7 linked regions of the Homo sapiens genome follow. The protein of the gene in region 2 purifies or fractionates together with the protein of the main gene of each other region. This does not show direct contact. Each region holds a gene or a part of one and is shown on either strand. Other genes may lie near its edges.

Region 1 (3,500 bases), on a different chromosome or scaffold from region 2:
GAGAGCCCAGAAATAGATCCACGTAAATATAATCAACTGATCTTTGACAAAGGAGCAAAGGCAATAAAATAGAGAAAAGATTATTTTCAACAAATGGTGCTGGAACAACTGGACATCCACTTGCAAAAAACTGAATCTAGAAATAGACCTTACATTCTTCACAAAAATTAACTCAAAATGAATCACAGACTTACAGCATAGAACTATAAAACTCCTAGAAGAAAACATAGACAGAAATCTAGATGACCTCAGATTTGGAGTTCACTTTTTAGCTATGATACCAAAGTCACAATTCATGAAAGAAAGAATTGATAAGCTGGACTTCATTAAAATTAAAAAATTCTGTTCTGCAAAAGACACTGTGAAAAGAATTAAAAAATAAGCCATAGACTTGGAGAAAATATTTGCAAGTGACATATCAGATAAAGGACTGTTATCCAAAATACACAAAGAACTCTTACAACTCTGTAATAAGAATACAAACAACCCAATTAAAAAATGGACCAAAGGGCTGGGGACAGTGGCTCACGCCTGCAATCCCAGCACTTTGGGAGGCCGAGGTGGGCGGATCACCTGAGGTCAGGAGTTTGAGACCAGCCTGACCAATATAGCGAAACCCCATCTCTACTACAAATACAAAAATTAGCCGGGTGTGGTGGCAGGTGCCTGTAGTCCCAGCTGCTCGGGAGGCTGAGACAGGAGAATTGCTTGAACCCGGGAGGCGGAGGTTGCAGTGAGCCGAGATCATGCCACTGCTCTCTAGCCTGGGTGACAGTGCAAGACTCCATCTCAAAAAAAAAAAAATGGACCAAACAAAGATCTTAGGAGACATCTCACTGAAGAAGATACAGATGGCAAATAAACATATGAAAAGGTGCTTTAATATATTATTTAATATAATTCTAATTTAATATTTATTCATTTAATATATATTCAAGGAAATGCAAATAAAAATGACAATGAAATACCACTCCACATCTATTAGAATGGCCAAAATTCAGAACACTGACAACATCAAATGCAGGTGAGGATATGGAGCAATATGAACTCTCATTCATTGCTGGTGGGAATGCAAAGTGGTAAGCTACATGGTGGTTTCTTATAATACTAAATATGCTCTTACCATATAATCCAGTAATCATGGTCCACAAGAACCTGCATACAGATATTTATGTCAACTTTATTCATAAACACCAAAACTTGGAAACAACCAAGATGTCATTTGGTAGGTGAATGGATAAACTGTGGTACATGCAGGTAATAGAATATTATTCAGTGCTAAAAAGAAATGAGCTATCAAGCCATGAAAAACATAGAGGAAACTGAAATGCACATAACTATGTGAAAAAAGTCAATATGAAAAGGCTACATACTGTGTGGTTCCAACTGTATGACATTCTGGAAAAGTCAAAACTATGAAGACAGTAAAAAGATCATGGTTACCAGGAATTATGGGGGAGAAAAGCATAAGTAAGTGGAGTAAAGAGGACTTTTAGGTCAGTGAAACTGCTCTGTGCAATACTGTAATGATGGACACATGTCATTGTACATTTACCCAAAACCCACAGAATGTACAACTCAGGAGTAAACCCTAATGTAAACTATGGACTCTGGGTGATAATGATGTGTCAGTATAGGTTCATCATTTATAACAAATGTACCACTCCAATAGGTGGTAATAATGGGGTTATCCAGTGTTGATAATGGGGGTGACTAAGCATGTGCAGGGACAGAACATATACAGGAAATCTCTATCTTCTACTCAATTTTGCTGTGAACCTAAAATAAACTCTATTAAAAAAAAAGTTGGCTAGAAAATTCCAAAAGAAAAAAACAAAACAAGATAAAACAAACCTAAAATAAATATTTAAATGATAGGCCTAAACTCATTGATATTAATAATTACATTAAATGTTAATGAACTAAATGCTGCAATTAAAAAAACAGATTTTAGGCCTGGCACGGTGGCTCACGCCTGTAATCCCAGCACTTTGGGAGGCCTAGGTGGGTGGATCACAAGGTCAGGAGTTCGAGACCAGCCTAGCCAACATGGTGAAACCCCATCTCTACTAAAAATACAAAAATTAGCTGGGTGTGGTGGTGGGAGCCTGTAATCCCAGCTACTCAGGAGGCTGAGGCAGGAGAATCGCTTGAAACTGGAAGGCGGAGGTTGCAGTGAGCCGAGATCATGCCACTGCACTCCAGCCTGGGCAACAAGAGCGAAACTACGTCTCAAAAAAAAAAAAAAAGAAAACCCAGATTTTATCAGAATTGATTTTTGTAAAAAGCAAGGTCCAAACATATGCTGTGTCCAAGACATATGCTTTACATATAAAAACATAGATAGAGTGAAAGTAAATAGCTAGAAAATTATATACCATGCAAACTGTAAACCTAAGAAAGTTGGGGGCCAGATGCAGTGGCTCACGGATGCAATCCTAGCACTTCTGGAGGCCAAGGTGGGAGAGTTGCTTGAGCCCAGGGTTTCAAAACCAGTCTAAACAACACAGTGAGACCCCATTTCTATAGAGAAAAAAAAAAGAGCTGGGCATAGTGCTGCATGCCTGTAGTCCCAGCTACTTGGGAGGCTGAGGAAGGAGGATCGCTTGAGCCCAGGAGTTCAAGGGTACAGTGAACTGTCATTGTGCCACTGTACTTCAGCCTGGGTGACACAGCGAGATGCTGTCTCTAAAAAATAAATGTATAAATAAAAAGAAAGCTGGTGGCCGGGCATGGTGGCTCATGCCTGTAATCCCAGCACTTTGGGAGGCCGAGGCAGGCGGATCACGAGGTCAGGAGATTGAGACCATCCTGGCTAACACGGTGAAACCCCGTCTCTACTAAAAATACAAAAAATTAGCCGGACGTGGCGGCACACGCCTGTAGTCCCAGCTACTCGGGAGGCTGAAGTGGGAGAATGGTGTGAACCCGGGAGGCAGAGCTTGCAGTGAGCGAGATGGCGCCACTGCACTCCAGCCTGGGCGACAGAGTGAGATTTCATCTCAAAACAAAAACAAAAACAAAACAAAACAAAACAAGCAAACAAAAAACTACATAGTTGAAGATTGATAGAAATAGCCAAAAATTAGTAAAAATACAGATCTAAAACATGATCAACTACCTTCAGCTAGTTAATATTTATAGAGTAATACACTCAGTAATTGCTGAATACACATTCTTTTCAAGTGAACTTAGTATGTTCATCAAGCTATTCTGGATCAAAAACTTTCAGGGATCTTTTACCATCATGCACCTTATGTTTTCTATACCATGAATCTTGGGAAAAAGAGCTAAAGGTTATCACAATTTATTACTTGCTTGAATCATGTCAGTATTTTTTGAGGGGCAATTAACTGCTATTTCTATTTATAAAAATACATAATATATTACAAATAAATTAAAATTTATTATACAATATAAATTTTTTTCAGGTGCAAATATATACAGAGCTTCATAATCAGCCCAAGACCACATAGAGCAAACATGAATGATATTTCCCA
Region 2 (3,500 bases):
GCTAGTCTCAAACTCCTGACCTCAGGCGATCTGCCTGCCTTGGACTCCCAAAGTGATGAGCCACCGCACCTGGCCTGGTTTTTTCAATAGACAAATTTTAAAAGGGAGAGAGATGTCTTTGTATCGGACGTCAGGTGCTATGTTTGGGGCACCTGAAGATTATAAGATACTCAAAAAATACTATTAAAAGAAAAGCAAAACTGAACTGTAATATTTAGGGATGCATACCTGGGTAATAAAGCAATACAGAAAAGCAAGAAAGTGACTGCATAAAAATCAGAATAGTGGTAATTACTCTTAAGGGGAAGAGAAGGAGTTGTGTTTGGAAGACGGTAGTATATCATATAAACAAATTTCTCAAGCTCTTCTCATTCTCAATAATGGTATAGTATGATGAAATGTAGAATGCAGAGCCAAAATGTAGAAAGAAAAATAATACAACTCAAATAAAATGGTCAGGTGCAATGGTTCATGCCTGTGATCCCAGTAATTTGGGAGACTGAGGTGTGTGGGATTGCTTGAGCACAGGCATTCCAGACCAGCCTGGCCAACATGGTGAGACCTCATCTCCACAAAAAAAAAGAAAAAATTAGCCAGGCTTGGTAGTGCATGCCTGTGGTCCCATCTAGTCTCAGGTAGAGGTGGGAAGATCTCTTGAGCCCGAGAGTTGAGGCTGCAGTGAGCTAAGGTGGCACTACTGCACGCCAGGCAAGGTGATAAAGCAGGGCCCTGTCTCAGGCAAAAAAAAAAAAAAAAAAAAAAAAAAAATTCTATCACTTTTAATTACATTTGAAACTTTACGAAATGCTTCCATAAGCAAGGACCAGATGCAAGGTTTGCAGATAGTGAAGTACAGCTCGTGCAAAGTGCTTTGTGAGCACATGCTTGAAATAACTGCTTGTAAAATTGCAAAATTGCTGAATTGAATTTAATGCTCAAAAAGAAAAATAATATTTGATGTCTCTAGAATACATATATTGCCAGAGACTACCTTATTCCTTGCAGTTCCCTTTACTGTGCTCTATTTCACTATCCTAGTATATTTTAAACATTTTGCTAGCCACACCAAATTATTCCAACTACCTTTTAAATGTTGGTGCCCATCAGGATTTTGCTCTCTGGTCTCTTTACTTCTCAATTTGGCACTTCTTTGTTGGATTCAACTATTAACTCTAATGCTCTTTACTTGCAAAATTAGAACCTCCACTGAAGTCGTTTTTTTATTTTACAGCTCCAGGTGTCTACGGAGCATCTAAATCTGGATATCCCATGAGAACTTCAAACTCAAAATATCCAAGAGATCCATTAATATTCCCTTGTGCTGACCTATAACACTGAATCACATGCAGTAGTATTTAGTTGATTCTACCGCTAAAATGTCAAACAAATTTGCCCAGTTTTATCCAACCCTCCTATTATTGGCCTTCATTATCTTTCACCAAGACCAGGTAAATTATCTAATTTCTCTTGGCCAGCTTCTCTTGCTCCAACCAAAGGACAACTTTGGTTGGAGCAATTTAAGCAAAACTCAAATTGTTTAACTGCCTTGATTCTATACCTTGCATGTGCAAATCAAAGTATCTTTGTATTAGACATCAGTTTCCTTATTTGTAAGGTGGGACAATAATATTCCATGAGATTGTAAAAAGTTCTATCATAAGAAACGTCAACAGTAATATAATATAGCAATTAATAAATGCCCACTTACTTCTTCTCACCATTATCTCACTGGGGAATATTATAAAAACTATCATATATGGTGCTAAGGGTTATATGTTGATTAAATAATTTAATCTTCACAACAGCTTTATGAGGTAAGTATCACTGCTACAATTCCAACTTTAGAGATGAGGCAAAGAGAGGCTATTTTGTCTAAGATTACACATCAAGACAAAGGCAACACTGAATCTCAGATTTAGGTATGCCTGAGTCCAGACTGTGATAACCAACAGAATATACCAACTCTCAAACATATTAAATTCTCATTACAATGGAATTAACTTCATCACCTTCAAACTGTTGAAACAAGATTTTAAATAAAAGAAAATATTAATAGAAGATTAAAGAAATGTACAGTGTAGCTATATACCAATATGAATGCGATGATAAAATGAACAGTGCAATCAAAATATTTTAAAAATACACATTTTCAACTAAACATAGTTTTACATAACTTAAAGTGCAACACAGTTTTTCTTAATGGTAGGCCATCCTCCAAGCCCTAATCGTTGTCTCACTGTTTCCTATAATACTTTGCAGGTGCTTCTGCAGTTTGCTGTGCTTCTGCAGTTTGCTTTCCTTCCTGTCAAGAAATCACAGCATCAAAAACATGCAAAAAGCTCTACCTTTTTACATATTTTGTGGTTAGCCAACAAACTAATGTGAGCTCAGTCAACGATGTTTCAACTTCCTTAATACTGCACAACTGCAATGCATTTTTGCTGCTTTAGAGTGCTGCAAAAACATCTATGACATCTGCATTTCTAAAACGATAACAATTTGTTGTTTTTGAAACGTATTTTCAAGACTGTTCTTAAAACCATATAGTAATTTATACCTGTCTAAATAATTTCTTATTTTCATAGGTAACATTTTTAAAGTATATGGGCCTTTCAACAATTTGCAGTCTTCAGAGAAATGACATTTAGATTTTCTTGGGTCTATTCAGGACCCAATCTTGTAAACCATTTCACTAGAAATAAAAGTCTGCTTTGTTCTTTATTAAGAAAAAGAAAATATGGAAGAAGCCAATTAAAATTTATTGCATAGGATAGTGTTTCCAAACATGCTTTAAAGATAGAAACCCTTACTAAACACAGTTAAGTGAACTGTGACATATACGACGGATTCGATGGGACAACTCTGACAGAAGCCAAGATAGAAAATACAGAGCCCTATCAGCCTGACTTTTCATTATTCATAATGAGGTAGGAGGTGGAATGTGACTCTGGACCAGATTGAAGACTGACAGAAACAAGGAAGAGGCAACGAAAGATCCTCTCCGTAAGACACACCCACCAGCACCATGACAGTTTACCATTGCCATGGCTACACCCAGAAGTTACCATCCCTTTCCATGGCAATGACCCAGAAGTTACCTTCTGTTTTCTAGAAATTTCTGAATACCTTGTCCCTTAATTTGCACATAATTAAAAGTAGTATAAACATGGCTGCAGAACTGGCCCTGAGCTGCTACTCTTGACACACTGCCCAGGGGTACCCCTGCTCTGAAGGAGAAGTCACAGAGCTGTAACAACCCTGCCTCAATAAAGCTGATTTTTCTACCACCAGCTCACTCTTGAATTCTTTCCTGAGCCAACCTTCTCGGGCTAAACCCCAATGTTCGGATTCACCTGCCCTGTAATAATTTCACCATAAAAGTCAATAAAGCTTCATGATGCAACCCAAAATGTCTATTAAACATCCAGAATCCTTACAGAAACAGAAGGCCACACTAACATGAGGCCAACACCCCTATATAAAAATGATACAATGGATCT
Region 3 (3,500 bases), on a different chromosome or scaffold from region 2:
TGTGAAATGCGTGTTAAGAACGATCTATCTAGAGTCGCACAGGGTCCAGGGCCGCTGCAGTTGACTCAGTTGTTCCCATCCTCGTTTTATTTGACAAAGTACTTCATTTGGCCACTCTGGAAGAATTTATTTTCTTGATATCAACTGGGCTCAGAATCAGTGTTCCATTTTTGAATTTTCCAACCTGTCCAATCCGTCCATTTGACAAAATACTGGGAGCGGACTTCTTTTTGGATTTCCTACATTTAAAGTAAGAGAAAGGTACTATAAATAGTCAAGCTTACCAACAAGCATCACAGTACCACCAACCAGGCCACTGCAGTCTGGCCTGCAAACTCCTGGTCGCCTGCCATGCACACCCCCCACCCCATACGCCTTCCTGTGGTCCCTGAAACATGCTACTGCCTTCCTGCCTCAGGGCCCTTGCACTGGTTTCTTCTGCAAGGAATGTTCTGCTACCAGCTCTTTCCAGGCTGCCCCTCTTCTTTGTTCAGTTCTCAGCTCCGATGTCACCTCCTCAGACTAATTTCCCAGCTCACCTTCTCCCTGTGGTTTTCCTTCACAATGCTCTCTTTCAGCCTCTCTACAATACTTGCCAGTACCTGATATCATCTTACTTATCCATTTGTATGTTTTGGGGTGTTTCTCTCCCTACAATGAAGCTCCTCAAGGGCAGGGATATCTTTAGTGTGATTACAGCTGTACACCAATACCTAAGACACCCACATGCCTGGCACAAAGAGGCATTCAACAGATACAGATCGGTGGCCAGAACAAATGACCATTTTACAGCATGTACAAGTGCACTAGGAGCCCAAGAAAACAGGCTAAGACAAAAAGAGTCCATTCTGAAACAGTAACTCAAAGACAGAGAAAAAGGCATTTGAACAAAAGCTAACAAACAAGTATAAAGCAACAAAGTCAACATCCCTTATTCATAATTACGGTGCTCTATCTTACGTGGTATGTCAAAGAGCAGGCTATACAGACCCAGACTACGCTGCTGTAGCAGCACTCTTAGAAGTCTTTTCTTGGAAATGTAAACTGCAGCTTTTCCACTAGTCACTTAGAGTGTCGGTGAAAAGTGGAAGATTGGAGAAACTTCCTAATTCAGTTCTCAGGCAGTTGTTTGATCTTGGGCAGTTTACTAAATCCTACTTTGACAAGGATAAATGAGAGACAGTGAAGCGCTCTAATGGGCTAGCAACACCACATACATTCAAGGCGTCCTTGTCAGAACTCATCAGTAGGTTCATCCAGATTGTTCAACCCCAGGACCTGATAAAATCACTCACCTGTCCTCCTGTCCTTTCCTCTTCTTTTTCTTGAAAATATCTGTTTCTTGGGCCTGATTTCAGAATTTAAGATCATATACATATTAGTAGTGGATAATGGGATTCAAACAAAAGGCAAGAGGTTTGTGACCAAAAGTCATTGAGATACCATTTTTAACATTTCTTTCAAGTGGGCATATTAAACATAACAGTCTCAAAGTTTTACCCTAAAACCCTTTCAAGAATGTGAAAGGCTGGGCCTGGCGTGGTGGCTCATGCCTATAGTCCTAGCACTCCAGGAAGCCAAGGGGGGAGGATCACTTGATCCCAGGAGTTCAAGACCAGCCTGGGCAACACAGCAAGATCCTGTCTCAGTTAGAAAGAAAAAGACAAAAGAATGTGAATGGCTATTCCAGGTAAGACTAATAGTCTTACACTGAAAGCTCAAATCTTCCATTTTAGGTGAAAGGTAGAAAGTGTAACATCTATTCCCCTTGTGGTTTTTCATAGGCCCTTGTGTTGTATACAAGGTTATACAACGTAAAATGCAAAAAAAAAAAAAAAAAAAAAAAAAAACCTAAGTATAGAAGAAAGATCAAAGTAGCCTGCATTATTGGAACAGGATTGCTATAGTTTGGATAGCTGACCCTCCAAACCTCAGGTTGAAATTTGATCCCAACATTAGAGACGGGACCTAGTGGGAGGTGTTTGGGTCATGGCAATGGATCCCTCATGAATGGCTTGGTGCTGTCCTCATGGTAATGAGTGAGTTCTCCCTCTGTTACTTCCCACTTCCCATGAGAGCTGTTTGTTAAAAAGAGCCTGGCACCTCTCCCCACTGCTGCTTCGCTCTTTCATGTCTCGCTCTTGCCATGTGATCTCTGTACACATGGGCTTCCCTCTGCCTTCCCTCATGAGCGGAAGCAGCTTCAGATGCTCACCGGAGGCCGAGCAGATGCCAGTGCTATGCTTTCCATGCAGTCTGCAGAACCATGCTCCAAATCAGCCTCCTTTCTTTATAAATTACGCAGCATCAGGCATTCCTTTACAGCAACAAAAACGGACTAAGACAAGGAGTTTGCTATTTCAAAGCAAATCTTGCATGTAAGTACGCCAGATTACTTGGCTGGTATTACTAAACAGAGCTAACTCGAAGAAATGGGGAGCATGGGATCCTTTAACTCTGGTGCCTTCATTGCTCTCCAAGCAGCGGCTTCCGGCATTCCACTGTGGCAAAGAGCATCCATCTTCCCATTCTAGTTGAATAAAGGACAGACCATCACACCTACCAGTCTCTTTTCTTCTTCCTTTGCTGCCTTTTTTTCTTTAATTTGCTCCTGTAAAACCTTGTAATTCACATAACTCTTTTTAGGAGGCTGTAATGAAAGAACAAAGAAACAAACCATCATATTTTATTCTGCAAAAATGTTCCAGTGTCCCTTGCCCTGACTTGCTCTTAGCTTTCCTTGCTCTTGCTTTTTTTGCATGTTGTCTAGTGATGAAAGGTAGCAGCAGCCCCTCACCTTAGCGCCCAGCATAATGGCACGTTCCTGTTCCAGGATTCTCTCCTTTCCTTTTCCATAACCCGTGATACCAAACCGGTGCACTTCTAAACGAGCCTGCGGACACAAAGCATAATCAGACGCAAGTGCATTCCAACAACTCCAAAGAAAAAAACATACTGCCAGAAGTAATGCATTTCAGATCCACCGCTCTGTAATGACAGCGTACAGGAATAATAACTCCACTGTCATGTGGTCAAAGGAGCTCTATGGAGGCTCTCCTACCATACACCATCTCTCACAACATCTTTCTCCTGTTTTTTTTCCTTTGAGACAGGGTCTTGCTCTGTTACCCGCCAGGATGGAGTACAGTTAAAAAGAGGCATGATCATGTCTCACTGCAGCCTTGACCTCCTGGGCATGTGATCTCCTGCCTCAGCCTCCCGAGTAGCTAGGACTATAGGCACGCACCACCACACCCAGCTAATTCTTAAAAAATGTTTTATAGAGAAGAGGTCTCACTATGTTGCCCAGACTGGCCTTGAACTCCTAGGCTCAAGTGATCCTCCCACCTCAGCCTCCCAAAGTGCTGGGATTATAGGTGTGAGCCACCGTGCCTGGCTCTCGCCCACGGTTTTTTTTTTTTTTTTTTTTTGAGACGGAGTCTCACTCTGTTGCCCAGGCTGGAGCACAGTGGCATGATTTCAGCTCACTGCAAGCTCTG
Region 4 (3,500 bases), on a different chromosome or scaffold from region 2:
AGAGAATAAGGAAAGAATGTTGAAGTTGGAAAGCTACTGGATTGAGGCCCAAACATTATGCCACACAGTGAATGAGCATCTCAAAGAGACTCAAAGCCAGTATCAGGCCTTGGAAAAGAAATACAACAAGGCAAAGAAGTTGATCAAGGATTTTCAACAAAAGTAAGCCGCTTCTAATAACTAAAGAATAGTTATGTTTGTCTAAAGAAGGTTTATGTCCAATAATTTTGTAATATCTAGTGGAACAGAAAAGATGACCTTAGAGATATCTTTCCTATCCAGGAGCATAGTTACAGCATAAATACACATTAAGTTTTGGAAGTCACTTCTATCACTTTTTCATGAGATTATGTTTTGTATATTTTATAGTTTTTGGCTGCCAGGGCCTCTTTGCTATTTTTGATAATTAATCGTTGTTTATAACTGTTAAAACATCTGAATTTCTTTATTCTTTTTGAAACACCTCTATGATTTAGAAACAAGAAGCCCAGCGGAAAGTCATGTAGAATGACTGACTATTGGATGTGGAGCACGCAAGCCACAGCTGGGGCCTGAATCAGGCTGCTCCTCTCTATTCTTAGATCAGTAACTACAGAATTTCCCACTACAGACAGTGCACATATCGACTAGCAAGGCCCCCTGCCCTGCCACTCTGCATTTCTCAGCTGTTGAGAGAATCAGGAGGGCCTCCTTTCACTGCAGGGAGAGAGACCATTACCACATTCTGCTTTTGATTTTCAACAGCTGTTTCTGAGCTACTGCTCCTTTGCTTCCATCTCTTGGATCTCGGTGTAATGTCACGGAGACTGACCACGGAGATTTTTACTAGATTTTTTTCATCAGTTACTTCTGGCTAGTTAGAACAAATAAGTAGTACCAGTACCTTTTCTGGTCTTCCATGCCAAGCCTCAGAAGCTAAGCATATATGTAAGATTAACCATATTTCTTTTATTTCCTATTATGTGGAAGAATGTTTTTAATATTTAAAAGAGTTTTGCTATCAAAAGTTTCTTGTTAAAAGGGGAGTAATTATTCTCTGTGACTATAAATTCAATACATCACTGTTTTAACTATTTGCCAAACTCTTTTTCATGAAATAATTTTATAGTAAATTTTGCTAAATTTGCATATTCTATTCCAGGTTTTCAAAATGGAACTGTTTCTCTTCTCCCCATATTATCCTTAGGTCTATAAGTGAGTGCCCCTCTCGATGTTTCTGACCCACCCAGCCCCCTCTTCACTGTTATTCATAGAAATCTTACAATTATCTTTTTCGAACTCTTATCTAGTTACATCAGTTTACTATACTATGCTTATGACATTGGAAAAATGGAATTATTTCTACCTGACAAGTAATTATCTCCACTAAATTACCCAATGTGGGTCATTAGTGCAGTCTTTCCTATCTAAATATGTATGGGTGTTCTAGAATCAGGAGCTACGAAAGAAAATTATAGTAAGCAGAATCGAATCATTTTTCTTTGCCTTGTGACCCATTAAAGATGTTTTAGTTTCTTTCATTACTATACTTTTTCCTCTAACTGATTGAATGTTGTCCATTTAAATAACTGTTCAGTTGCTTATCCTACTATGCAGTTTATTGTTTCAGATAAGAACTTTCATTTATTGAGTGTATGATATAATCAGAACTATTATTTTCTTCTTAAGAGAGCTTGATTTCATCAAAAGACAGGAAGCAGAAAGAAAGAAAATAGAAGATTTGGAAAAAGCTCATCTTGTGGAAGTGCAAGGCCTCCAAGTGCGGGTAAGTTGTGTTCCCTAAGACACTAAATAATAAGATGGTTTTGCTGTACTTGGAGGGGAGCGCTAGTTTAGAGTTTTATAAATGGATTTGTTTTTCCTAGATTAGAGATTTGGAAGCTGAGGTATTCAGGCTACTGAAGCAAAATGGGACTCAAGTTAACAATAATAACAACATCTTTGAGAGAAGAACATCTCTTGGTGAAGTCTCTAAAGGGGATACCATGGAGAACTTGGATGGCAAGCAGACATCTTGCCAAGATGGCCTAAGTCAAGGTTTGTTTAACCCAACCACAAAAATCATTTTTGATGACTGTGTAATTTGGCCTTTTATTTTTCTTTTTCTGACCCAGAGATTTAAAAGTTGGAAATACCTTCCTACTATGGGAAAGAAGAAAAGGCTTATCAAAATAGGAGTCAATCATTTTAGCTCTCGTCTTATCAAAAATAAATACTTTAATATGTAGCATTAACAAATCACAACTAAAGATAAGCCAAATACTATTTTAAAATCATCATACAATTGACAGATTTAATAAACTGCCTTACAAATTGTAGTTCATCCTATCTAGGATGAACTACACTACTTATGTGTTAATGACTAAGGTTTAGATTTTTTTTTTTTTTTTTTTTTTGAGAGTCTCACTCTGTCATCCAGGCTGGAGTACAGTGGTGCAATCTCAGCTCACTACAACCTTCGCCTCCCAGGTTCAAGCGATTCTCATGCCTCAGCCTCCCCAGTAGCTGTGACTATAGGCATGTGCTACCACGTCTGGCTAATTTTTGTATTTTTAGTAGAGGTGGGCTTTTGCCTTGTTGGCCAGGCTGGTCTCGAACTCCTGACCTCAGGTGATCCACCTGCCTTGGCTTCCTAGAGTGCTAGGATTACAGGCATGAGCCACCGCGCCCAGCCAAGCTTTAGAATGTTTAAGTCACTAGAATAAAGATCTTTTTCATAATATCAGAAGGCAGACTGCTGCTTTCAGCACTTGAGATTCATGTAGTTAACGAAGTCCATATAGTTTTGTGCTTTTACCATGGTGTACTGTGTATACTTCTTAGGTCTTTCATGTCAAAGACCAAGTAAGACCAAAACACTGGAAACATTTGGTATTATAAATGATTATCTTCATTCATACACCAACCATAAATAAATTACTTATGTTCTTACACACACAACATTCTTAGATTGCACGTGTATGAACATGAATGACTGTTTTAATATCTGTGGTATATTTGCAAATTAGAAAACACATAATAATTATAAAGATAAATACACAGGAATGTGTGGCTTCATCTTTTTAAATATATACATAGTAGTCCCTGGAAAATGAAAATAAAAGAATGTGGTGCAGCAGGGTTGTCATGACAGGACCGACAACTCAGAGGCAACACTTTGACGTGCAGTAAAACCCTGTTATAATGGGCTTTTTAGTTTTTTCGTGATCTTTCTCACATATTAAACTGTCTCCAGTGAAGTTTTCCTGATAAGCAAGTGTTTATATCCTATCATGAACTTTTAGAACTAAGCTCTTAGCCATTAAAAATGGAAAGGATTAGAAATCTTCATTTAAAATTAAAATGATATCTAGAGATTTGAATCCATTCACTGGGTTTATATCCTTCTAATGGGTTTTCCCTAAATAGGATGTAATTTATAAATAGTGCCTCTTAGGCAGCTGAAAGAGGAGGATTTAGCATTAGCATTACGACTAAGTGAGGAGCTGTGTGACTTCAGG
Region 5 (3,500 bases), on a different chromosome or scaffold from region 2:
TTTTCTTATAATGTTACCATCAGGCTTGGGTATCAAATGAGTTGGGGAGTGTCTTTTCTTCATTTTATAAAAGTTTGGTATCATTATTTTCTTAAATGAGAGGATTCACCAGTACAATTATCTGGGCCTGGAATTTTCTGTGTGGAGACATCTTTGGCATTACATTTGATTTTTTAAATAGGTATTTCAGTACTCACATTTTCTGTTTTGCCAGTTTGGTAATTGTGTCTATCAAGAAGTTTGTCCATTTCATCTGATATGTTGAGTTTATAAACAGAGTTGTTCACGATAGTCCCTCATTCTTTTGATGACTAGGATTATCATGACATTTCATTTTTATTTCTAACATATATAATTTGTGTTTTGTGTCTTTCGTGCTAAATCTTGATAGGCATTGCTTAGTTTTATTAAACGTTTTTAAGAACCACTTCGGCTTTGTCATATGTTGGTGCAAAAGTAATTGCAGTTTTGGCCATTACTTTCAATGACAAAAACCGCAATCATTTTGCACCAACCTAATAATTTTCTCTATTGTTTGTTTAATTGATTTTCAGTATTATTTCAGTATTATTCAGTATTATTTCTTTTACTTTCTTTTTTTTTTTTTGAGACAGAGTCTCGTTCTATCGCCCAGGCTGGAGTGCAGTGGTGCAATCCCAGCTCACTGCAAGCTCTGCCTCCCAGGTTCACTCCATTCTCCTGCTTCAGCCTCCCGAGTAGCTGGGACTACAGGCACCCACCACCATGCCTGGCTAATTTTTGTATTTTTAGTAGAGACGGGGTTTCACCGCGTTAGCCAGGATGGTCTCGATCTCCTGACATCGTGATCCACCCACCTCGGCCTCCCAAGGTGTTGGGATTACAGGCGTGAGCCACGGCGCCTGGCCTCTTTTACTTTCTTTTGGTTTAATTTGCTTATCTTTAGATTTGAAAATTTTCTCATTCATTTTTAAGATTTTCGTGATTTCTGCTAAACCTGTTGAAAGGTGTAAACTTTCTTCTTTGTACTGCTTTAGTGGCCCCGATTTTTTGATGCCTTTTATTTTTATTATCATTTCTTTAAATATATATTTTAACTTCCCTTGTGATCTCCTGTTTTAAAAATTTATTTTTTTAGTTGAAAAATAATAATTGTACATGGGGTACATAGTGATTTTTCGATACATATAATATATAGTGATCATTGTGATCTCTTTTTTGACCAGTTGGTTATTTTATGGTGATTTATTTTATTTTCAAATACTTGTTTTTTCTCTAGATATACTTTTGATGTTAATTATAAGTTAATTTTGTTGTAGTCTAGAGAATGTATCTTACATGATTTCAAATTTTTAAAAATTATTATTATTATTTCTAAATGGCCCAGCTTTAGTGTATCTTGTGAAAGTCTCATTTGCATCTGCAAAGTAGATGTGTTCTCCAGGTGTTGAATATAATGTTGTATAATTTAAGTTTGGTCAACATGGTTGGTAATATCATTCAGATCTTCTTTATCCTTACTGATTTTTCATCCAATTTGTTTACCCGTTACCAACTTAGGGGTATTAAAATATCCAGTTATGTTTGTGGGTTTGTTTATACTTCTCTTTAGTTCTGTCAGTATTTTATAACTTTGTTATCAGGCACATACACATTTATTATTATTATGTTTTGAGCATTATGAAACGTCTCTACCTCTGGTAATATTCCTTTCCTTATCTTATAGATTGTTTTGTGTAATACTTCAGCTTTCTTATGACAAGTGTTTCCATGGTATATGCTTTCTATCTTTTTTCTTTCAAACTAATTCTGTCTTTTCATGTAAGTGAATCTCTTACAATAAGAGTTTGGTGTCACTTTTTTATTAAGTCTGACAATCTATGCCTTTTAATGTAGTGTTTAGTCCATTTATGAATGTTTTGTCCATTTAATGTAAATACTGCTATGATTGGATTTAGGAGCAATTTGTTGCTCTTTATTTTCTATTTATCTGTTTTTTAAAATTATTGTTTTTATTGTTGTTTCTCTGTTACTCCTTTCTTGCCTTTTTTTGAGGAGATAATCATGAATCTTTTAGTTTTTTATTATTATTGACCTTTTATCTATATTTGTTTGCATTGTATTTCTCAGAGTTGATCAGTGGATTACAGAATATATCTGAAAATTATCACAATCTATTTAGAATTGATATTGTATTGTTTCACATTTGATCTAGAAACCTTGGAATAATATAGTTCCATATACTCCCTCATCCATTGTGCTATTGTCATATATTATATCTACATATCCTATAATCCCCACAATAGAGTTATAACTTTTTCTTAAAGAGCCCTTTCAGTTTTTTGTATTAGACTTTTAAAAAATTAAAGAAGGCTAGAATAAATATATATTATATATCTACTGTATTATATATTGTATATATTATAGATAACATTCTATTGCTAAATATAGATAATATATATTTGTAGACAATATCTATATATAGGTAATATATATTCTATTCTTATATATTATATAGATATATAACATCTATATAATCTATTTATAGATATTACATATCTATAAATACATATACAATTTCTAGGGATCTTCATTTCTTCCTGTAGATTCAGATTACCATTTTGTGTCCTGTCAGTCTTACAAACTTATTTTACATTTCTTGTAATACAGGTTTACTAGTGATGGATTTTTCTCAGTCTTTGCTTTTCTAAAAGTATTTGTCTCATCTTTGTTTTCAAATGGTGGTTGATGTGATTGTATTCTTCTTGTCTAACAGTTGCCTTCTTCTACCTCCAGCTCTTTATAGGTTTCCATTTTTATTGGCCTCTCTTGTAATCATTCATTTCATTGTCCTCTCTATATAATGTGTTGATTTTGTCTGAATGCTGTCAGGAATTTTACTCAAGATTGTGGTTTTTATCTTTTGATTACAGCAATTTGACTGCATGGTGCCTGGGTCTAGCTTTCTTTATGTTTATTCTGCTTGACGTTTGTTGAGCTTTCCAAACCTATAAGCTGATACTGTCTGTGAAATGGGAAGATTGTTATTTCCCACCCTATTTTTCATCCTCTCCTTTTGGTACTGTAGTTACACATGCATTGAAATTTGTGCTATATCTCACTGATCTCTGAGATTCTGTTTATATTTCTTAAATCTTTTTTCCTCTTTGTTTTTAAGATTGAATAACTTGTATTACTTAGTCTTCACGTTTACAGATTGTGGTCCGGAGAATGTATCTTTTATGATTTCAAATTGTATTAAATTATTTTGTTTTGTTTTAATGGCCCAGCAAAAGGGTATGTCGTGAGAGTTCCATTTGCAGTTGCAAAGTATGTGTGTTTTCCAGGTGAATTTTTTATTTCACTTATTGTGGTGTTCAACTTCAGATTTTCTATTGGTATTTTTTCTGTTTTTTAATATAAAATCCCCCATCTTTTCAGCCATCATGCATATATTTTCCCCAAAGTGCTTGAACATATTTATATTAGCTATTTTAAAGTCCTTGTCTGCTAACTCTAAA
Region 6 (3,500 bases), on a different chromosome or scaffold from region 2:
CACACCTTGCAGAAGGTGAGGTGGCTGACAGTGCGGAGAGGAGCAGCCTAGGGAGGCAACATGAGGGGAACATGACTGCATTCTCTCTCCTGTGAAAAGGGTCCAGCCTCGGCACTCCAGATCATCCTGGACCTGATAGACTGGCCGGTTCTAAGGTCCTTCCTGGTGGTCACGGCTATGGCAGCAACTGGGTTGACCAGACACCCAGCCAGGCCAGCCCAACCCAAGACTACAGCCCAGAGCCTCGGAACTAGGGCCCTCTAAACTAGACTCAATATGAGAAGCATTGGTTTGGAAATGGCCCCGGGGAACAAGGATCCAACTGCTGCCCCTGCTAGACAGGCAAGAGACTTGAGTTCCAGAACCAGACCTACTTTCAGCTTGCTGTGTGACCTTAGGCAGATTGCTTTCCATCTCTGGGTCTTGCCTTCTGTATCTATGAAAGACGGTTGGTGGACTAGCTCAGAGGTGATCAGATTGTGCTCTGTGGAGGCTGACAGAGCTGTCTTAGGGCTGCTGGGGAGGATGAGAAGTGGCTGAGCTGAGCCTGGGCACCCAGCTTCCATCTCTGCTTCCTTGGGCATCTCAAGGGAAAGGTGCTATTAGCTCCTTCACACTTTACTCCCCCTCCTTTCCCTTCCCTCCTCATGCTGTCCAAGGAGAGAGCTGCCTGAGGCGCACGGAGGAGTTCTCCTGACCCAGCAGAGGGGAGGAATGTGAGGCTCTGGGCAGGAGGCAGGCTGCCATCTGCCAGAGAGCCGTGTTTTTGAAAAAATCAGAATCAAGCCTGGGAGGCAGCAGAGTGAAATGATGGAAAGAGGAGTCCCAGCTCCACTCCTTTCTCTCTGGGTGACCTTGAGCAAGAATATCTTCACCTTTATGAGCCTCAGTCTGCTCATCTGAGAGCTGGGGATAAGAACACCTACCATGATGGTCTGTGGCAAAGATTAAAAAACACAGTGCATTTAAAGGACTTAGCAGGTTGCTAGGCAAAGGCTCAGTGAGTGTAGGCAGTCATTTTTAGAAACTTTTAGACTGTTGGCCATATTCTGCAAATATGCGAATTCTCTCCACACACAACAGTCTCAGGTGTTGCCAGTGCAGATGCTGCCCCTGGGGCAGAAAAGCAAAGCTGCGGCTGCAGACCCCTGGGCCCCCTTGGCTGGTCTAGCTCTGGCAGGAGACTCATCACCTGTGTGTCCTGCCCCTCACCCGCACCTAAGTTTAACTTCATGCACACCCCACCCTGTTCTAGGCCAAGGATGAGCTGAACGAGAGAGAGGAGACCCGGGAGGAGGCAGTGCGAGAGCTGCAGGAGATGGTGCAGGCGCAGGCGGCCTCGGGGGAGGAGCTGGCGGTGGCCGTGGCGGAGAGGGTGCAAGAGAAGGACAGCGGCTTCTTCCTGCGCTTCATCCGCGCACGGAAGTTCAACGTGGGCCGTGCCTATGAGCTGCTCAGAGGTGAGGCCAGTGCTTGGAGGGACGGCCCTGGGAAGACGGGAGGCCATGAGGATGCTATCCGCTCTCATCCTGGCACTGAACAGGCCTGCTTCCATACTGTGGGCAAGTCAGTTTCTCTGAGCCTCCACATCCTTACCTGTAAAATGGGTCAGCTCTGATAATGAGCGAACGAATGAATGAATGAAGTGTGTCAGGAGCAGATTTCTGGAGGTCTGAGTCCTCTCAACTCTCTCCCAGTCTTGGGATTCAATGAGTAAAACTTGGGTACCCCATTTGGGTGACGAGGGGAGGAATTTCCCCTCCAGACCCCCACCATGAGAACCTAAGCTTTGGCTCTGGAATGCTGCAGGAAGGTGGATAGTGCCTCTCTCAGGGCAGTTACCTAAGCCTCATGTGCAGTGGAACTGAAGATGGTGTCAGACCTGGGAATGAACCCCGGGGACAGAACCGCTCTGGCACTGCTGGCTGGATGAAGACAGGATGCCTCAAGAAATCATCGGCCGGTTGCGGTGGCTCACGCCTGTAATCCCAGCACTTTGCGAGGCCAAGGCGGGCAGATCATCTGAAGTCGGGGGTTTGAGACCAGCCTGACCAACGTGGAGAAACCCCATCTCTACTAAAAATACAAAACTAGCCGGGCGTGGTGGCGCATGCCTGTAATCTCAGCTACTGGGGAGGCTGAAGCAGGAGAATCGCTTGAACGCAGGAGGCAGAGGTTGCGGTGAGCTGAGATCGTGCCATTGCACTCCAGCCTGGGCAACAAGAGCAAAACTCTATCTCAAAAAAGAAAGAAAGAAAAAAAAAAAGGGGGTGGTTCCCTCAAGAAATCGAATCTTGGGCACTGGTGGACGGAAATGGGGTCTGAGTGGGCCCTCTGCAGGCTAATGATTTTCCTTTTCCTACTTCTTCCTTCTCCAAATGGTAATTCAGGGCCATGCTGTGCCAAGAACTGTTTTAGGCCAAGGGATGCAGTGGAGACAAAACAGACAAGTTCCCTGCCCTGGTGGAACTCATATTCTAATGGTGGAAACAATACATCCAATAAATAAAGTAAAATTATATAGGGTTAAATAATGGTAAGGAATAAGGAAAGAAATTAAGGAGGTGGATATAAAGTCTTGAGGGGCTGAAGTTTTAGATAAAGTGGCCAGGGAAGTCCCAGTGCAAAGGGAATTTTGAAGAAAAACCCGAAGGAAATGAGATATCTGTGGGGAAGAGCAGCCAGGGCAGAGGCAACAGCAAAGACAAAGGCCAGGGGTTGGGAGGTGCCCAGAGTGTTCCAGAGCAGTGAGCAAGTTGATGTGGCAGTCTCTTGGCAGAGGTGCCCAGGTCCTCTAGGGGCTCAAATTTGGTGGTGCAGGCCACAGAGGTGGGGAACTGCTCAGGATGGGTAAGGATGGTGTTTGTGGACCGTAGAGGTGCTGCTGGAATCAGGAGCTCTGTGTCCTGCTTGGGGTTTGGATTTTACTTGGGAGCTTCTCCTCAGCCCTGTGCACACCTCACCACTCAGCTTATCCTGTGCCCAGCTGAAAAATCTGTGTCTTGTCCCCATGGGGAAGAAAATAACAAGTAATGATTATCCTCATATTTAAGACTATGCCTCATGTTTGCCCAAGCTTATGATGATGTTTACACCTTGAATCTCATTTGATTGCCACAACAATTTGGTGAGATAGGCCACTATCTAGACTATCTAGAATAGATAGGTCAATATCGAGATCCCATTTTTTGGAGAGGAAACATGGGGCTCGGATAGGTTGAGTAGCCAGCTCGGTCACACATAGGACCTGGCAGGAGGTCAGGTCTCTGAGTCCCACTAGGAGGGATGGGGTAGGGATGGGATGGCTCCCTGAGGGGGTTCCTCTGCTCTCCTTCCTCCAGGCTATGTGAATTTCCGGCTGCAGTACCCTGAGCTCTTTGACAGCCTGTCCCCAGAGGCTGTCCGCTGCACCATTGAAGCTGGCTACCCTGGTGTCCTCTCTAGTCGGGACAAGTATGGCCGAGTGGTCATGCTCTTCAACATTGAGAACTGGCAAAGTC
Region 7 (3,500 bases), about 44 Mb from region 2:
TTTCTGTGTTTATTCTCTGCTATTCAGTGTTAAATTACTCCTTACAGCACAGTGGGTAAGTATTATTATCCTCCTTTTACAGATGCTAAAACTGAGGCAAAGATAAGCTTTGTAAATTGTCGTAGGTTACGCATAGTCATTAAACACAGCTATGATTTGAATGAAGGGCTCTGATCCCAAAAGCGATAATCTTAACCACTTTGCTAGCCTCCAGTTGAATTTTTAATCCTGGTTCAGCTGCTAAATGTGTGCAAAAGCTCTGGGTATCATGTTTCTCATCTATAACATATAGGAGTTTGATGGATTATATTATCTGTAAGGTCCCTCCTACCTCAAAAATCCTCTGACTTTAGTTGACTCCTAAGTATTATCTGAATATAGCAGTTCTGGAGTGCCAGAAAACCCTCATCAATTTTGATGTGTTTTATGTAAGCTTTTATATGTGTTCACGTCTTCCACATTGGTGGACACACAATCATGTTTTTGCAATAGGAAGAATAGAGTTAAAAAAATCACAGCCATGCTTTTTTTTTTTTTTTTACCAGCTATGACACTAATAAGTCACTGAACCTTTGTGAGCTTATGTTTTCATATGTAAAATGGATCCATAGGATTGCTGTGAGCGTTAAGTGGGTTGACTTATAAAGCCTCAAACGTGTTGTCTGATACACAATTGCTGATAAATAAATATTGATTCTTTTTCTTGCTCAGTCTTGCAAGGATAAAAGATTAGTGGATATGAAAAATGCTTTATAAATTAGACAAAGGTGAAGAATATTTTCACTTACAGTCTACTAGGAGAGAGAAAGTTATATAAACAAATAATTATATGTAGGGCAATTTACATACATCATTGAACACAAAACATGGGAATGCAAAGAAAAGAGATTTTTTTTTTTCCAGGAGGGCAGATGAGGAAAGACCTCATAAAAAAGGTAATATTGAGTTTGTGCCATATAGGATGGAAAGGATTTTGGCAGGGGAACAAGAGGGACAAGTGTTCTACTGGAAGATGCAAAGGTGTCAGAAAACAGAAATAGTACCTAGGTCACTTTGGCTATGTAAGATGGATGAAGGCTGGTAATAAAGCTGAGGTAAAAAGCTGAGTTTAGGACAAGCTGTAGATAACTGTGGGCAAGTTAGAGATGTTAGGCTTTTAACGATAAGCAATAATCTGTGTGTATAACTAGGATGGGGTGGAGGATGGAGTTGGCATTTGTTTTCTTTGTTATGGAAAAACGCCCATTTGTTACAGAAACATTAGAGTGTACAAATATGCCAAAAAGGAAAGAGAAAGGAAGAGTGGCCCATGACCCCACCACTCAGAAATAACTTATGATTTTTCTCTGTATTACAGATTTGCATATATGTGCTTTTAAAATAAAAATGAAATAATACTGTCTATATTGTCTTGTGACCTGCTTTTTTCAATGTGCTATACCATGAATTTTTCCATGTCAATAAATTTGCTTCTATAAAATAATACTTAGGGCCTGTATGCTATTCAATTTTATGAATATGTTATAACTTTTAAACTGACTTCTTTCTGTTAAGTAATAGTACAATAAAGGTTTTTATAGTAAAATATTTAGACATATTCGTATCTATTTTCTTATTACAATTTGTAGAAGGAGAAATGGTCACCCACAGGATATGAACACATATAATACTTACATGTATTGCCATATTAATCAAATTTTTAATTGAAACTTGGTGCAAAATTCATAAGGTATGAAAGGGTATATAATGAGGCGTTAGCCTCCCTCTCACCTCGTTGTCCTCCTGACTCACAGCTAGCCCTTATAGCACCTTGTATGATTAGAAAAGGGCACCCCCTTCTGGAGGATCCATAACTCTTGGATATACACTGTGTAACTGATGCTACTTTTGTAAGGATTGGAAAAAGGCATCTTTTTCTCTATGGCAACAGCCCTGCAGGGACACATGGCTGGGCCAACAAAGTATGGGTTGGATTCAGCCCCTACTGACCTCCCTAGATTGAGTACTTTTATGACAGGTACTGCACCTGGCCTTTTTGACTATTTACTTTCTAAAAGCCAACACTAAAGCCAAATGCAGACTTTGTTAAAATACAGAAGACAAGATTGGCCGGCGCAGTGACTCATGCCTGTAATCCCAGCACTTTGGGAGGCCAATGCGGGCGGATCTCTTGAGACAAGGAGTCCGAGACCAGCCTGACCTACATGGTAAAACCCCATCTCTACCAAAAAAATACAAAAATTAGCTGGGTGTGGTCGTGGGCACATGTAATCCCAGCTACTCCTGGAGTCTAAGGCAAGAGAATCACTTGAACCCCGGGTGGTGGATGTTGCAGTGAACCGAGATCATGTCACCGCACTCCAACCTGGGTGACAGAGTGAAGGATTCTCTCTCAAAAAAAATACAGAGGACAAGGTCAAACTTTAGTGCATCCCTTGAAATACATACATCCCATATAAAAAGTTTTAACAACTATAAAAGTTCAAAACGAGACAATGTCATTTTGACTAATTAGGCAATGCAGTATAATGTAAACAACTGAATTCAGAGAGGACCTGGGGTTGAGCTTAAACTCATGAACATATAATGATAGCCTTGAAGAAGTTACTTAAATTCCCTGAGCCACAATTTCTTCATCTGTAAAGTAATACTATCAACTTTACTAGGATTAAATGTAATACTGTGTGTAGGTACACAAGCATCAGAAAAAAATTATTAAGGTCTCTAGTTTTGTTTTGTTTTTAATAAACTCACTGTTTTAAATTAGGGTCTGTGGCTCTAACTATGAAGTCAAACAGACTTGGATTTGAATCCCAACTCTGTCACAGTTGTGTGACAGTCACAGTTGTGTGACAGTGTGAAAGTTACTTTTCCACTGTTTCATTATTTGTAAAATGGGAATGATGATGTCTTCATAGGCCTTTTGTGAAGATTAAATAAAATAATGCATGTATAGAGTTTAATATGGTGCCTGGTGTAGTAAGGCACTTTATTTGTTCAAATTCTCCAAAAAGCAGATGCCAAGAGGAGGTAAGATGTACAAGATGTTTATTGGGGAGACTGCTTGTGAAGAATGAAGGAGAGTGAGAGTAGGAAAGAAATGCCTTCAGGCCTCAATGCACGTCTGACAGCCTAAAAAGAAGAGAAGGAAGGAAGAAAGAAGAGTTGAGTAAGAATATCAAAGTGCTACACTCTTCTAAGAAAGCTTCAATTAGGCCAGTGCAGAGTCCAAAAGCCAAAGTCATGTATTAGAGGAATCCCATGTTGCCACGGTATTCAATGTTAGGTATTAGTAAAAATGATCAACAGTTGTCATCTGCTAAAACTTACAAATACATTTGAATTTCAAATCTTGAATTTTACTCCCTGTGCCACCCCCTCCTGCCCTCAAGAAAAGTATAATCCCTACTGCCAGACATTGATACTAACATTTGGGTCATATGTTCTTACACTATCTTCTTATATTTTATAATACGGTTTTGTTAGCCAGAACAGTTAGG

What was found.
Region 1: the proteins of EMB (region 2) and NEXN purify together in Homo sapiens (affinity purification with mass spectrometry; one large-scale study listed by BioGRID and IntAct). This does not show direct contact.
Region 3: the proteins of EMB (region 2) and FSAF1 purify together in Homo sapiens (affinity purification with mass spectrometry; one large-scale study listed by BioGRID and IntAct). This does not show direct contact.
Region 4: the proteins of EMB (region 2) and PPP1R9A purify together in Homo sapiens (affinity purification with mass spectrometry; one large-scale study listed by BioGRID and IntAct). This does not show direct contact.
Region 5: the proteins of EMB (region 2) and MAP9 purify together in Homo sapiens (affinity purification with mass spectrometry; one large-scale study listed by BioGRID and IntAct). This does not show direct contact.
Region 6: the proteins of EMB (region 2) and RLBP1 purify together in Homo sapiens (affinity purification with mass spectrometry; one large-scale study listed by BioGRID and IntAct). This does not show direct contact.
Region 7: the proteins of EMB (region 2) and KIAA0825 purify together in Homo sapiens (affinity purification with mass spectrometry; one large-scale study listed by BioGRID and IntAct). This does not show direct contact.

Annotation. Positions count from the first base shown.
Region 1 is NC_000001.11:77,912,624-77,916,123, forward strand, and holds part of NEXN (nexilin), read left to right. Parts: intron 1-3,431; 5' UTR 3,432-3,483; coding exon 3,484-3,500. UniProt on the Homo sapiens protein: Involved in regulating cell migration through association with the actin cytoskeleton. Has an essential role in the maintenance of Z line and sarcomere integrity.
Region 2 is NC_000005.10:50,413,789-50,417,288, forward strand, and holds part of EMB (embigin precursor), read right to left. Parts: intron 1-3,500. UniProt on the Homo sapiens protein: Plays a role in the outgrowth of motoneurons and in the formation of neuromuscular junctions.
Region 3 is NC_000001.11:231,224,176-231,227,675, forward strand, and holds part of FSAF1 (40S small subunit processome assembly factor 1), read right to left. Parts: intron 2,894-3,500; coding exon 2,798-2,893; intron 2,651-2,797; coding exon 2,564-2,650; intron 1,349-2,563; coding exon 1,296-1,348; intron 240-1,295; coding exon 104-239; 3' UTR 1-103.
Region 4 is NC_000007.14:95,250,094-95,253,593, forward strand, and holds part of PPP1R9A (neurabin-1), read left to right. Parts: coding exon 1-162; intron 163-1,668; coding exon 1,669-1,765; intron 1,766-1,865; coding exon 1,866-2,037; intron 2,038-3,500. UniProt on the Homo sapiens protein: Binds to actin filaments (F-actin) and shows cross-linking activity. Binds along the sides of the F-actin. May be involved in neurite formation. Inhibits protein phosphatase 1-alpha activity.
Region 5 is NC_000004.12:155,363,466-155,366,965, reverse strand, and holds part of MAP9 (microtubule-associated protein 9), read left to right. Parts: intron 1-3,500. UniProt on the Homo sapiens protein: Involved in organization of the bipolar mitotic spindle. Required for bipolar spindle assembly, mitosis progression and cytokinesis. May act by stabilizing interphase microtubules.
Region 6 is NC_000015.10:89,215,080-89,218,579, reverse strand, and holds part of RLBP1 (retinaldehyde-binding protein 1), read left to right. Parts: coding exon 1-15; intron 16-1,255; coding exon 1,256-1,460; intron 1,461-3,341; coding exon 3,342-3,500. UniProt on the Homo sapiens protein: Soluble retinoid carrier essential the proper function of both rod and cone photoreceptors.
Region 7 is NC_000005.10:94,612,105-94,615,604, reverse strand, and holds part of KIAA0825 (uncharacterized protein KIAA0825), read left to right. Parts: intron 1-3,500.